Regions from separate parts of the Homo sapiens genome. Here region 1 is linked to region 2. The links come from fine-mapping of genetic effects on gene expression. Tissue or cell type: whole blood. Region 2 holds a variant in brackets; the other region holds the start of a gene. All regions are shown on one strand. Distances are between the middles of the regions.

What was found. PIP is the estimated chance that this variant, and not a neighbour inherited with it, causes the effect.
Region 1: TFPI starts here. The variant in region 2 is the best candidate, but not a certain one, in a credible set for the expression of TFPI in whole blood (GTEx, PIP 0.55).

What each region holds. Positions count from the first base shown.
Region 1 is chr2:187,550,112-187,558,301 of GRCh38, forward strand. It overlaps TFPI (tissue factor pathway inhibitor), which reads right to left and starts at 4,324. Exons shown (of 8, transcript NM_006287.6): 1 at 4,089-4,324. RefSeq lists enhancers at 7,366-7,950, 7,951-8,190.
Region 2 is chr2:187,819,626-187,827,815 of GRCh38, forward strand. It overlaps the pseudogene ST13P2. Among named protein-coding and RNA genes, the nearest start is that of TFPI, 270 kb to the left of the region's middle. The variant G/T (reference allele first, on the strand shown) is at 4,420.

The sequences.
Region 1 (8,190 bases), 270 kb before region 2:
TATATAGTACCGAACGTCAGAGAGGACAGAGTTACACAGAAAGAAAGATCCAGAGATCTTCAGATGGACTTCTAGGCTTCAGCTCAATATTGATCTGTTGCATTCATAAGAGAAAAGTCTAAAGACTGGGTGAAGCACCACCTAAAAGGGTTAGAGGGGCCCACACATGTAAAGCAGGGAATATTTTTTGTTCCCAAGTTGCAAAACTCTCAGTTCATGGAGCATTAAGTATAGTACTCAGGTGTTTGCAACAGTAGTAGGAAAAAATTAACCATAGAATAAACAATTCTCTGGTCTTGCCTAACAAAGTTTAATAGCAAGACAACAAAATAGGAAACAGTTTCCAAGTACTTTAACTACATCCCAGAAGAGAGCTCAAGGATATTTATAGAAATACAACATATACCAACACCCAATAAGGTAAAATTCATAATATTAGGCAACCACATCAAAATTACTAGGGATGCAAAGAACAGTAGAATATAACTCATAATGAGAAAAGTCTAAATGACAGAAATGACATCAAAAACAGAATTAGCAGACAAAAATATTAAAAATGTAAAGTATTTTCCATATGTCCAAAAAACTAGAGAAAAGTTGTATTACATTTTAATATAACCATTGTGATTCATTTTCTGAGATGAAAATTAATCTTTGAAGCTTCCTAAATGGACTTTAAAATATTACCAAAATATTCATAATAAACACCATTATTCTGGAGACTTACCCTGTTTCTGAGATTTACTCTGTTTTTAAGCCTTGGGAAATGAGGAATGAGGAATGAAGTGATGCTTACAGATGAATTATCATAGAATTCAAGGACTGGATAGAAATAGATAAGGGTCAAGAAGAGGAGAAGAGATAGACTAGGTTGGCAGCAGTGTGGTGGCAGCACTTGAGGGTGTGGTATATTTCGAGGGTGTCAAAGGCACATTGTGCTTGGTAATAAAAACTGTTTACATTTTATCAGTGTCCTACTGATGAATACTTTCACATTTCTGATGTTGAAATAGCTTTCTTATGCCCTAATAAGCAATATATAATATTTTTTACTCACATATTGACTGGGTAATTCCTTGCAATAATTCCAAGTCTACACAGAGACCTGTGGTCCATCACATGGAACAATTGGGATAGTTGTACTGCAGCATTGGAACTTCTATTATGGGCCATGATGTCCTTATATTCTTTTGTTTTTGAAGTAATTTTAACACCTGGTTGTTCCAACTAAGAGAGGACATAGCATCCCAAATAGAGGCTTAAAGAGAAAACAGTGGATTTGACATGGGCCCATACTTTCTGTTATTGTCGGTTTGAGGAAGAAGAAAAGTAGAGGTGAAGAAGTTGCCTTCAGCAACTGGTAGCTACTGGTAGTTGAATCTCAGGCTGTGGTTCTACTTGGCACCTGACACTTGGAGAAGTGAAGACAGGGAGAGAAAGGTAATGGGAAGACTGGGCCCCCGGAATTGATACATAACACCAAGAAAGCAGTCAGTGAGGATTTCAGAAAGCCAGGAAAGATGGTCTATTATGAAGAGAACTTGCTGGAAACACTTGAACACTTCCCTGTTTCTGGTGAGATTTGATATCCAGAAACACATGTCTATTGAATTCAAGTTTCTCCTAATGCACATTGTAGCAATCAGAAAGAATTATAGTACTGCTATATTTCTATAAAAGATAGCAGAATCTACCTTTGACACTAATGCATGAAAATATATTTGTGTTTTAAAAAGGCAGCCTGCCAAATTTAATTCCTAAAATGAGTTAATTGCTATAGATGGTAAACAAAAAAGGATGGCTGGTTGTAGAAGGCCTTTATTGAGAATAGATGAGTTGTATTGTAGTACAATTCTTAGATCATGTCCACATAGAAAAAAATAAATTGATGATATAATTAACCCATTTTAACCTATATTATAATTCAATTTAATTAATTTATACTGATAAGATTTTTTTGAAAATCCTAGTCTAAGTAATTTTCTTCACTTTTCATATTGTCTGTTCCTTTTTATTTTTTGTAAGGATGTTTACTTTGCATTTTTTTTCTTGTATTAGGTAGAGATATCAGTTGAAAGATACCTTAAAATTTTGTGACACTGAATTTAATCAGCCAACCATTCCTAAGGAATTGATAGCATATTTACTATTTGGTTAGATGGATAGGCACTCTGGCATTAAATTAAGTCTCTAAAGTTGGCATTTTTTCTCCATTAGTTTGCCATCCTGCCCACTTACCTCTTGAATTTGAAAGATGTAAACAAAAGATTTCTAAAGATTAGAAAATTAATTTTTAAGATAATTAAGCTGTTTTGAAAATTAGAGTTTATTACAAAATATGTTATCATTTTATGTATTATTAATTTAACAATAAGTTTTATGACAGAAGATTTAAGTCAAAATAGTTGTACAATCAACAAGCAAATGATAATCATTTCCTTAAATGATTATCTGACTGATAAATGGACAATCAGTCAGACCATCAAACACCAGTTGATAACATAATCCATTTGGACAGGAACCACATTTCCAAAGGAGTTTTGATTTAGTCATTGGTGGTAAAACAAAAGATATCAGACTGTACCTTAAAAACAAAGAAACAAAACAAAACAAAAACTTGTCCAATTCAGTATACCTAATAGAGATAGGAATCAAATAGTAGTATATGTCATTAAACTTTTCCAACAAGATTCTGTGGTCACTTGAAGTAGAAAAACTTGGTTTTCCAATATAACTACTCAAATCAGTAAAAATAAATATTTTAAAGTTTTACTCTTATTTTAAAATTACTTGATTAGTTATCTGTATTTACATTAATATTTTTCAATCTTTGTTGATCCCTAATTATATTTCATATAATTTTATTAAGCTGTAGGCCACAAATTAACATTTCAAACTCAGCCAAATTTCAGGGACTATCCCTCTTTAGTTTAAGGATTAGATGAGATATGGACACTGTATATTGAAATAATCATGCACTAGAATGATAGATTTAAAATAATCTTTAAAATGTGTTAGGGAGATTTTGCCTCCCTAACACATTTTATTCAAAAGTTTTGCAGTATCTCTCAAAATTGTCACAACTTTCCCCCTTTCATGTAAATATTATGCTTTTACACATGAAATATGACTCTCTGGGCAGTATGTTTCCTGCTTGAGTTTTGCCCTTTGTGTTTATATTATCTCATGTTATACAAAGTCATTTTGTGACTAATTTCCAGAGCACTGAGTCACAGTGTGGCTGTTGCTTATCTTTTCTTTTTTCCCACATGGTAGTACTCTTGGCCCTTATTTTTGGTAATTATTTTATACTAATGAGTGCTTTTTCATAATTAAATAATTGTTTCTCTCATTATATTTCTGTGGTTGTTTACTGCTGTATTATATGCTTTCATTTTTCACTAGAAGCAAACATTTTATAACAGGAACATAACAGTACATCATGTAGGCATGTTATCTATTGTTTTAATTTACAAAATTGCACAACATAGACTTGATCGTAAGTATTCTCGTTTAAGTATCTCAGAATATGACCTTTGGTCTTTGGAGAATTGTAAAATATTTCCTTAGAGAGATTAGTTAATGCTGGCATAAAATATTCCATTTAGATTACGATTATTTTAATGGTTATACCTCATTTTAAATATCATCAACTAATAGTATTGAAAGATTATTTGAATAGAAGAATAACAGTCTCTATTTTATATGTTATGAAATAAAATGGAAAGGTAAACCGAACTTTCAAGAACTTCCAATTAACCAAGCACAATTAGTAAAGAATTCTACTACAATCTTCAAATTATAAAAAAGCTACATACACCAATTAGTTACAAAAATGTTTATGGTTTAAAATCATAAAAATTGCACATAAATTTGCTTAAGAACTAAATGCAAAATGCTGAGAACTCAAGTTTGGATTGCAGTTTGAGTTTACTCTGTTTACAGGGAAGGGCTGATTTTCATTTTACGCAAATAAACAGTGATCCTCCCCTATCAGTTCTTTGCCTCTCAGCACCCTGCTTTTCCCCCGAGAAAAAGAAATTAAAGTTATTTCTTATGGGCTAGACAGTATATTGCCAGGTACTCACAAGTAAAATCTCTGATGAAAGTTCTTGGAATGTTTTTTTCAAAACGGAGTTGAGGTTATTTTGTTTTTCCTTCCAGGTATTGAAGACAGGATTTATCTTCTCTACTTCTTCTTTTAGAAGCAGATCAAGAAACTGGCGATTGAAGAGTAACTGAAAGAAACGCAATCTGATCTTACTAGCAGTGAAAGAGCGAGGTAAGAATTTGACTATTATCCAGCCTAAAGTCGCTGCTGTCTGTTAGAGCAAAGAGGGAGCCTCAGAGTCGGCTTCAGAGATCACTGGCAGTTGGGAATAGCCCAACTTCCTGTTTAGGTCACTGCAACTCTGACTCTATTTAGTCTAAACCTCTTTTTTCTTTCTTTCTTTCTTTTTTTTAGTGGAGGAAACAGATGAAGGAAACAGCTTACACCAAGATTTCAGATACGATCATTTTGAATAGCTATTTCCTTTACTTTCCAGGATTGTTTTTGTAATCAGTTGAAAAAGAATGCTTTTTTCCCCCTAGAGTTAGGGTTTAAAAAATTACATATTTATTATTACACTGTTAATAAGCTTTTTTGCAGTTTGTTTCTTCTTCAAGTTATTTCATTTGTTTCACCCACTGTCAATGTATTTATTTTTTTTAAAAGTCTGAGGGCTACCGTTGGAGGTCTCTCTTAGTGAGACAATGTAATGCATTATCTATTGCAGGTGTCAGGCTTTGAGCCCTACCTTAGCTACTTGCTAACTTGGCTACTCAGCCCAGTTATTTGAATTCACTATGCCTCAGTTCCTTTGTTCCTAAAATGTCGATAATAAAAGTTTCTGGGCTTGATGTAAGTACTAAATGGCTTAATACATAAAAAGTACTTAAGGCAGGACCCAGCATGTAGCAAACCTCCAATAATTGTTGGCTATCATTATCGCTGTTTTCTGTATTTCTATTATTATTATTCTACAAAATATGTAAATATTTACAGATGTCAACCAGAGTCTCTGCTGTATGTCCCTATCATTGAGGTTCATCCGTACTGTCTCTGTATTGGAATTATGGTCATATCAGACTAAGATCACTAGAGATCTAATAAATGGGCAGAATCTACTTTGCCAGGAAGGCTGAAGACATTTGGTCAGAAAATGTAGGAGTTTCTTGCTTCTGCATCTCAGATTCTTTGTGCCTTCAATTTTTCTTGCTTTCCTTAGACCTCTCTGTAAAAGGTAACCTTTCATCTTGAGTGTTTTTAATACATATTGAATAATTATTTGGTGGTGACTGGAACATAAATTATCGATTTAATTCTCACAACTAGCTTATAAAGAAGGTCCTCTTTGTATGCCCATTTCACATGTCTAGGAAGATCGAGTTCAGTATGTGGAGCTGTGATTCTAATGTCATGCAGTCTGCCTTTAGAGCAAAAATGCATAAATCCTCCTCCATGCTGCCTTCTCACTCATGTTCTGGATTTCATATCATGTTAATAACTTATCTCCTATTACCTCATGCCCTGCCCCTCAACCACAATCAAAGCTATCATCTCACTCAGATTGTAGAGGAAAGTCCTTTTTTCTTGGTACCACCATGGACCTTGATTAAACTTTTGAGGAATCTGTAGCTCAGGTAGAGGCAAGCTCAGCCAATCAGATTTTCTTTCTTGAAAGTTTCGCCTCTCCTCCCTCTCCCTCTCCCTCTCCCTCTCCCTCTCCGTCTCCCTCTCCCTCTCCCTCTCACGGTCTCCCTCTCCCTCTCTTTCCACAGTCTCCCTCTGATGCCGAGCAGAAGCTAGACTGTACTGCTGCCATCTCAGCTCACTGCAACCTCCCTGCCTGATTCTCCTGCCTCAGCCTGCTGAGTGCCTGCAATTGCAGGCGCGCCGCCACGCCTGACTGGTTTTCGTATTTTTTTGGTGGAGACGGGGATTCGCTGTGTTGGCCGGGCTGGTCTCCAGCTCCTAACCGCGAGTGATCCACCAGCCTCGGCCTCCTGAGGTGCCGGGATTGCAGACGGAGTCTGGTTCACTCAGTGCTCAATGGCGCCCAGACTGGAGTGCAGTGGCGTGATCTCAGCTCGCTACAACCTCCACCTCCCAGCCGCCTCCCTTGGCCTCCCAAAGTGCAGAGATTGCAGCCTCTGCCCGGCCGCCACCCCGCCTGGGAAGTGAGGAGCGTCTCTGCCTGGCCGCCCATTGTCTGGGATGTGAGGAGCCCCTCTGCCTGGCTGCCCAGTCTGGAAAGTGAGGAGTGTCTCTGCCTGGCCGCCATCCCATCTAGGAAGTGAGGAGCGCCTCTTCCCGGCCGCCATCCCATCTAGGAAGTGAGGAGCCTCTCTGCCCAGCCGCCCATCGTCTGAGATGTGGGGAGCGCCTCTGCCCCGCCGCCCCGTCTGGGATGTGAGGAGCGCCTCTACCCCGCCGCGACCCCGTCTGGGAGGTGAGGAGCGTCTCTGCCCGGCGGCCCCGTCTGGGAAGTGAGGAGACCCTCCGCCCGGCAGCCGCCCCATCTGAGAAGTGAGGAGCCCCTCTGCCCAGCAGCCACCCTGTCTGGGAAGTGAGGAGCGTCTCTGCCCAGCAGCCACCCCGTCTGGGAGGGAGGTGGGGGGTCAGCCCCCCGCCCGGCCAGCCGCCCCGTCCGGGAGGTGAGGGGCGCCTCTGCCCGGCGGCCCCTACTGGGAAGTGAGGAGCCCCTCTGCCCGGCCAGCCGCCCCGTCTGGGAAGTGAGGAGCGTCTCCGCCCAGCAGCCACCCCGTCCGGGAGGGAGGTGGGGGGATCAGCCCCCCGCCCGGCCAGCCGCCCAGTCCGGGAGGGAGGTGGGGGGGTCAGCCCCCCGCCCGGCCAGCCGCCCCGTCCGGGAGGTGAGGGGTGCCTCTGCCCGGCCGCCCCTACTGGGAAGTGAGGAGCCCCTCTGCCCGGCCAGCCGCCCGGTCCGGGAGGGAGGTGGGGGGGTCAGCCCCCTGCCTGGCAAGCCGCCCCGTCTGGGAGGGAGGTGGGGGGATCAGCCCCCCGCCGGGCCAGCCACCCCGTCCGGGAGGTGAGGGGTGCCTCTGCCCGGCCGCCCCTACTGGGAAGTGAGGAGCCCCTCTGCCCGGCCAGCCGCCCCATCCGGGAGTGAGGTGGGGGGGTCAGCCCCCTGCCCGGCCAGCCGCCCCGTCCGGGAGGTGAGGGGCGCCTCTGCCCGGCCGCCCCTACTGGGAAGTGAGGAGCCCCTCTGCCCGGCCACCACCCCGTCTGGGAGGTGTACCCAACAGCTCATTGAGAACGGGCCATGATGACAATGGCGGTTTTGTGGAATAGAAAGCGGGGAAAGGTGGGGAAAAGATTGAGAAATCGGATGGTTGCCGTGTCTGTGTAGAAAGAGGTAGACATGGGAGACTTTTCATTTTGTTCTGTACTAAGAAAAATTCTTATCCTGTTGATCTGTGACCTTACCCCCAACCCCGTGCTCTCTGAAACATGTGCTGTGTCCACTCAGGGCTAAATGGATTAAGGGCGGTGCAAGATGTGCTTTGTTAAACAGATGCTTGAAGGCAGCATGCTCGTTGAGAGTCATCACCACTCCCTAATCTCAAGTAACCAGGGACACAAACACTGTGGAAGGCCGCAGGGTCCTCTGCCTAGGAAAACCAGAGACCTTTGTTCACTTGTTTATCTGCTGACCTTCCCTCCACTATTGTCCTATGACCCTGCCAAATCCCCCTCTGCGAGAAACACCCAAGAATGATCAATAAAAAAATAAAATAAAATAAAATAAAATAAAATAAATAAAGTTTCATGCGCATCCGTGTGAAGAGACCACCAAACAGGCTTTGTGTGAGCAGCATGGCTGTTTATTTCACCTGGGTGCAGGCGGGCTGAGTCCGAAAAGAGAGTCAGCCAAGGGAGATAAGGGTGGGGCTGTTTTATAGGATTTGGGTAGGTAAAGGAAAATTACAGTCAAAGGGGGTTTGTTCTCTGGCGGGCAGGAGTGGGGGCCGCAAGGTGCTCAGTGGGGGTGCTTTGAGCCAGGATGAGCCAGGAAAAGGAGTTTCACAAGGTAATGTCATCAGTTAAGGCAAGGACCGGCCATTTACACTTCTTTTGTGGTGGAATGTCATCATTAAGGTGGTGCAGGGCATATTCACTTCTTTTGT
Region 2 (8,190 bases):
AGAAGTCACTACAAGAAGTAAAATTTTAGAGTATGTCAGAGTCTATCTGAATCTCTTCTGCTGTTTCTGGTTAAACTCCTGTACCTTGTCTAGAGGCTTGAATTCTGGGATTGACCTAGGAAGAAGAGTGCTACAGAGGGACCGAGATGACTCAATGGAGCTTTACATAGTTACAGGGGGCTGGATGGGGAAAACAAACAAGTGAACAAATAAAACCTTCTGTGCTACCTACTACTGCCTAGAAGAGACATATGTTAAAGATGAGGTCACAAAAATGTTGAAAATGAGGGACTGCAAGATATACTGGTAAAATTGAGGCTAAGGCAATACATGTGTATGTAGCTTTACTAATATTGAAAAAAAGTGTGCTTCATGTAAAGAAGAGTTGCTGTAAATGAATTTTTTTTTTTTTTTTTTTAAGACAGAGTCTCACTCTGTCACCTAGGCTGGAGTCCAGTGACACGATCTCGGCTCACTGCAACCTCTGCCTCCTGGGTTCAAGCCATTCTCCCATCTCAGCTTCTGGAGTAGCTAGGATTACAGGCGCATGCCATTGCAGCAGGCTAATTTTTGTATTTTTAGTAGAGACGGGGTTTTGCCATGTTGGTCAGGCTGGTCTCTAACTCCTGACCTCAAGTGATCTGCCCGCCTTGGCCTCCCAAAGTGCTAGGATTACAGGCATGAGCCACCACGCCCGGCGAAAGAATTTTATATCATGATAAAGGAGTTAATAGAAAAAGACAATATGCCAATCTAAATCTGCTTGCATTAAATAAAGAAACTTCAAAATACTTAAAACAAAAATCATCAGAATTAGAAGGGATAGGCAATTAATAAAAGTAGAAGACATTAACAAACCTCTCTAAATACCTGTTACAATTAGTAGACAAGAACTAAATAATCTTCTATAGATTAGAAGATCTAACAAACATAATTAACAAATTCCCTATGTAAAATGCTGTCCCCAACAACCTCAGAACTTACCTTATTTTCAAATGCTAATGGATAATTTACCAAAAGTGGCCAGATGTTGAGACATGCAGAAACCCCAAAAAACTTTAAAACATTGAAGTTATGTAGATTATGTTCTCTTACCAGAGTGGAATTAAAAGTCAATAACAAAATAACAAAAATATATCCTATCTACCAGAAAGTTATGCAACATGCTTATTCATAGGCAAAAGAAAATATCACAATAAAAATTCAAAAAGAAAGTTGGTTAAAAATATACTTAGATAGAGGAAATAAGTTTTAATGTTGAGTAGCCCAGTAGGGCAACTACAGTTAACAAGAATTTATAGTACATTTTCAAATACCTATGAGGAAAGGTTTGGAATGTTCCCAACACAAAGAAATTATAAATGTTTGAGATGATATATAACCCAATTACCCTAATGTGATTTTTACACATTGTATGCATGTATCAAAATATAACATGTACCCCATAAATATATACAACTCTTATGTATCAATTAAAAAATCACTTTCATTTTAATGAAGACAAGATATATCAAACTTGTGTAATGCAGCTAACATATGGTTCAGAACAATTTGTAGCTTTAAATGTATAAATTAGAAAAAAATATATAATTTTCTAACTCAAGAAGCTAGAGAAAGAATAGCAAATTAAAATTTATAGGATGCAAAGGAAAAAAGCTAAGAATATAAATTATTTTAAAAATGCACAATGAAAGAAATGTAAAAGTCAGGCTTTGGCTCTTTAAAAGAATAATAAAACAGATTAAATTTCTAGAACTGCTAATCAAGATATAAACTGATGCCAAAATCTGACAAGGATGTAACAAGAAAGATTAAATTAGAGTAATCCTCATGAATATAGACACAAAAACCCTAAGCAAAAGAGTAGAAAATTGAATCCAGTGATATATGAAAACACAATTATTTAAGCACTAACCTCAAGGAGCTAGAGAAATAACAGAAAATAAAATTTAAAAGAGTTGTAGAAGAATAGAAATACCATTCAAGTGTAATTTTAATTCAGCAATGCAGGGAAGGATTTAATTTCTAAAATCAGTCAACATTATTCACAACATTAACAGAAAAAAAAACAAAAATTATTCAAATGTCCCAATATATGTAATAAAAAGTATCTGGCAAAATTCAACAAATATTTACTAAAGGGAAAAAAAAGAATGAAAACGAAACTAAACAAAAATCTCTCAGAAAATGAGATGAATCTGAACAATAATCTGACCAACAGTGTCTCCAAATTACCTCCAGCAATCATGTGTAATAGAAGAAAAATACATCACTAGTTATTGAGACCTATTATAATTCTATAGTAATTAAAACAGTGTGCTATTGATTCAACGATACAAAATAAGAGACTTGAGAGTCTAGAAGCTCACCCCCACAATATAGTCACATAATTTGTGACAAATTGCTACAATTCAGTGAGCAAATAATAGGATATATATATATGTAATTATAACCCACTATTTATATTTGTATACATATTTATTTATAAAATATACATATGTATGTATTAATATGTTTTAGAACAGTTATACGTTCATCACAAAATTGAGTGGAAAGTACAGAGAGTTCCCATATACTTCCTGCCCCTTACACATACACACCCTCTCTTACTGTCAACATCCCATGTCACAGTGGACACTTGTTACAACTGGTGAACCTTCATTGGCACATTGTTAAAGTTCACACTTGGTGTTGTACATTCTATGTGTTTAGACAAATTCATAATGATATTTATGTACCATTACAGCATCCCACGGGGTAATTTCACCACCCTAAAATCCTCTGTGCTTCACCTATTCATCCTCGCTCTCCCCAACCCCTTGCAACCACTGATCTTTTTACTCTTCAAAGTTTTGCCTTTACCTGAATGTCATATAGTTGGAGTCATGCATTATATATCCTGAGGAAGATGTGAAACAGCAGCAACTTTGCTGCTAAAAATAAAAAATGCTGCAGCAACTTTGGAAGACAGTTTGGCAGTTCTTACAGAACTAAACTTATTCTTACTGTATGATCCATCAGTTGTGCTCCTTGGTATTTATGGAAAATATTTGAAATCTTATTTCCACACAAAACCTTGCACGTGAATGTTTATAGCAGCTTCATTCATAATTGCCAAAACTTGGCAGCAACCAAGATGTCCTCCAGTAGGTGAATGAACAAATAAACTGTAGTACAACTAGACAATGAAATATTATTCAGCACTAATAGAAGGTGAGCTATCATGTCCTGAAAAGATATGGAGAAATCGTAAATGCATATTATTAAGTGAAAGAAACTAAATGGAAAAAATTGTCTTTTTAACAAATGGTGTTGAGTAGGCAAAGAGTTTGTAAACAAGACCAAAAAAGTGCTAAACATAAAAGAAAATATTGATAAATTGAACTCTATTAAAAATGTAAAACTTCTATTAATCAAATGACATTAAAAGTGTGAGAAGTCAATACATACAATGGGAGAGATATTGGCTACACATATAGCTTAAAAAGAAGAGAGAGATCCAAATATATACAGAACTCCAAATATATAAAAAACATCAAAATGAGAAGGACAAAAAATATAGAGAATAGGGAAAGGACAATGTAATACAAATATACACCCATCAGAATGGCTGAAATAAATATAAACCAATGACAATACCAGTCACCTCTTCCCTCAGTTGGGATAAGTCTGAGATATTCTACTCTATCTCTCCCAGAATTTCTCAACTGGATGGAAGAAACAGTAATTACTTGATAATGTGCCTGCTATGGTCTGGATGTTCGTATTCCCCCCAAAATTCACATGTTGAAACCTAATCCCCAGTACGATAATATTTGAAGGCAGAACTTTTGGGAGGTGATTAGAACATAGGGGCAAAGCCCTCATCAATCAGATTAGTGCCCTTTATAAAAGGCCCCAGAGAGCTTTCTCGCTCCTTCCAACATGTGAGAACACAGTGAGAGGGTGCCATCTGTGAACCAGGAAGAGAGTCTTCACCAGTCACTGAATCTGTTGGCACCTTGTTCTAAGACTTCCCAGCCTCCAGAGATATGAGAAATAAATTTCTGTTGTTTTTAAGCCACCCAGATTATGGTATTTTGTTGTTGTTGTTTGACCACAAAGATATTTATTAAAGTTTATTTTGAATTGGGAAAAGAAGGAAACATTCTAGATGTTTTAGACTTAATACTAAATAAAATTATGGTATATTCATTTTGCAGAACACCATGTAGCCACTGTGGAAAAGAGACTTAACTAAATGGGCATGATGGCTGTTATTAGGGTGATGAAAATCTTCCAAAGCTGACTTATGGTGATGGTTGTCGCACTCAGTAAAGTTACTGAAATAATTTAATTGTATGCACAAAATGGGTGAGTTTTATATTATATATATATTTTTACATTTGGAATTTTTTTAACTTTTATTTTAAGTTCAAG[G/T]GTACAAGTGCAGGTTTGTTACATAGGTAAGCTTTTGTCGTGGGGGTTTGTTGTACAGATTATTTCATCACCTAGGTATTCTACTACCCATTAGTTGTTTTTCCTGATCCTCTCCCTCCTCCCACCCTCTGCCTTCTGAAAGGCCCCAGTGTATATTGTTCCCATCTATGTGTTCATGTGTTCTCATCATTACCTTCCACTTATAAGTGAGAACATGCCATTTCTGGTTTTCTGTTTCTGTGTTAGTTTGCTAAGGATAATGGCCTCCAACTCCATACATGTCCCTGCAAAGGACTTGATGTCATTCTTTTTCATGGGTGCATAGTATTCTGTGGTGTCTATGTACCACATTTTCTTTATCCAGTCTATCTCTGATGGGCATTTGGTTGATTCCATGTCTTTGCTATTGTGGATAGTGCTACAATGAACATACGTGTGCATGTGTCTTTACAATAGAATGATTTATATTTCTTTGGGTATATACTCAGTAATAAGATTGTGGGGTTGAATGGTGTTTCTGTCTTTAGGTCTTTGGGGAATCACCACACTGTCTTCCACAATGGCTGAACTAATTTACACTCCCATACACCCTTCCAAGACTGAACCAGAAATAAACTGAATCCCTGAACAGACCAATAATGAGTTCTGAAATTGAGGCTGTAATAAATAGCCCACCAACCAAAACAAGTCCAGGGCCAGATGAATTTGCAGCTGAATTCTACCAGATGTACAAAGAAGAGCTGATACCACTCCTACTGAAACTATTCCAAAACATTGAAAAAGAGAGACTTCTCCCTAACTTATTCTATAAGGCCAGCATTATCCTTATAAGCAAAACCTGGCAGTTATATAACAAAAAAAGATAATTCAGGCCAATATCCTTAATGTAATGAACATCAATGCAAAAGTTCTCAGCAAAATACTGGCAAATTGAATCCAGCAGCCCAAGAAAAAGCTTATCCATCATGATCAAGTAGGCATCATCCCCAGGATGCAAGGTTGGTTCAACAAGGTTGGTATCACAATCAATAAATGTGATTCATCACATAAACAGAACTGAAGACAAAAAACATGATTATCTCAATAGATGCAGAGAAAGCTTTTGATAAAATTCAAAATCCTTGCTAAAATCCTTTAATAAACTGGGTATTGAAAGAACATACCTCAAAATAGTAAGATCCATCTGAGTCTGCTCTGACTTGCGGCAGCCGCCCCCTTCTGCACAGTCATGCCAAGTCAGCGCCTGGGCCTGGAACCCGGCCACAGCCCCTCAGCTTCGCCCACCGCCTCCTGACCATGGAACCCCACAAAGTGAACGAGCTTCGGGCCTTTGTGAAAATGTGTAAGCAGGATCCGAGCGTTCTGCACACCGAGGAAATGTGCTTCCTGAGGGTGTGGGTGGAGAGTATGGGGGGTAAATACCACCTGCTACTCAGAAAGCTAAATCAGACGAAAATACCAAGGAAGAAAAACCTGGTAGTAAGAAAGTGGAGGAAGACTTAAAGGCAGACAAACCATCAAGTGAGGAAAGTGATCTAGAAATTGATAATGAAGGTGTGATTGAACCAGACACTGATGCCCCTCAAGAAATGAGAGATGAAAATGCAGAGATAACAGAGGAGATGATGGATCAGGCAAATGATAAGAAAGTAGCTGCTATTGAAGCCCTAAATGATGGTGAACTGCAGAAAGCCATTGACGTTTTCACAGATGCCATTAAGCTGAATCCTCACTTGGCCATTTTGTATGCCAAGAGGGCCAGTGTCTTTGTCAAATTACAGAAGCCAAATGCTGCCATCCAACACTGTGACAGAGCCATTGAAATAAATCCTGATTTAGCTCAGCCTTACAAGTGGCGAGGGAAAGCACACAGGCTTCCAGGCCACTGGAAAGGAGCAGCCCATGATCTTGCCCTTGTCTGTAAATTGGAGTATGATAAAGATGCTAGTGCAACGCTGAAAGAAGTCCAATTTAGGGCTCAGAAAATTGCAGAACATCGGAGAAAGTATGAGCAAAAATGTGAAGGGTGAGAGATCAAAGAAAGAGTAGAAAGAGTTAAGAAGGCATGAGAAGAGCATGAGAGAGCCCAGAGGGAGGAAGCAGCCAGACAACAGTCAGGAGCTCAGTATGGCTCTTTTCCAGGTGGCTTTCCTGGGGTAATGCCTGGTAATTTTCTTGGAAGAATGCCTGGAATCGGAGGGGGCATACCAGGAGTGGCCAGAATGCCTGGGCTTAATGAAATTCTTAGTGATCCAGAGGTTCTTACAGCCATGCAGGATCCAGAAGTTATGGTGGCCTTCCAGGATGTGGCTCAGAACCCAGCAAATATATCAAAATACCAGAGCAACCCAAAGGTTATGAATCTTATCAGTAAATTGTGAGCCAAATTTGGAGGTCAAGCATAATGCCCTTCTGATAAATAAAGCCCTTGCTGAAGGAAAAGCAACCAAGATCACCTTACAGATGTCACAATAATACAAACCAGTGTACCTCTGACCTTCTCATCAAAAGATCTGGGGTGCTTTGAAGATAATTCCTACCCCTCTCCCTCAAATGCAGCTGAAACATTTTACAGTGGTTTGCCATTAGGGTATTCATTCAGATAATGTTTTCCTACTAGGAATTACAAACTTCAAACACCTTTTAAACCTTAAAAATATTTAAAACAAATTTAAAGCATCTGTTAATTATCATATTTTTATTTGCTAACCATTTTGGATTTTTTTCTTTGAATTATTGGGCAGGGAATATACATATGTATGGAAGATTATTGCTCTAGTTTGAGTGAAATAAAAGTATATTAGTGTGAGGGAAACATAACTCATTTGAGGATAAAGTTTGTGTTGGATATATGGTTCCTGAAGCATTTTGACTTGTCTTTTTAAATGCTTTATCTTTTTCTTTAAAGATTTATATCAATAAAACTAATTGGGACCACCACTATTTCAGTAGGACCTGGGTAGGGACTGGAAGTACTTGGCAGGGCAGCAGCAATCTTGCTGTCCTTTATATAACATGCATACTTTTGCAGATTGCCCTTAAACCTTACACTGTGGTGAAGGGATGATTTTTTTGTAATCCTGCAGTACAGTTGGAGTACTTAGTTCTGCTCTTGTCCAATATATCTAATAAATATTTCATATTATTTCCACATAGGGGAAATAAGGGATTACTTTTCTTTTTATATGTCTTTGTTTAAAATTATCTTTCCTAGTCAAAAAAATGCCCAACTCTGTGTCTGCTTTCTGCTTGTTAAATTTTTCTCCCTTACTTTTCTTGGGCTAAAGACAGGCTTTTTCCACCAGCATCATCACTGTTATCATCATTAACAGCATAATTTTAGAAGCATATTTAATGCTGAGTTTAATTTAATATGTAGTACATATGGTAATTGTATTGTAATACCCACAACAACTGTAGTTTCTTACTTGGCCATGAGAATGCTTTTTTAAGTGTTAGACTTCCACTCTGGCAAAATCTTGTCATATCAAAAGACGTCGGAAAGAGGGATTCCCTTTGGTGTTTGGTCTTCTACTTAGAAAACACCTAGTGCAGTTAGAGTTTATCTTGTAGTATTCCTCTCTGTATTCTGAAGATAATAAGGTTTGAATTAAATTGATCTACACAGAGGGGAACCAATTTTTTTGATCCAGTGTGAATTATAAATGAGATAATTCAGTTATTCATTGTGGAATTCTTGAGACTATGAAAGGCTCATTGTCTTTGTATTCGGCTCTTCCTTAAATAGAGTAACCATACCCCCACCTCTGC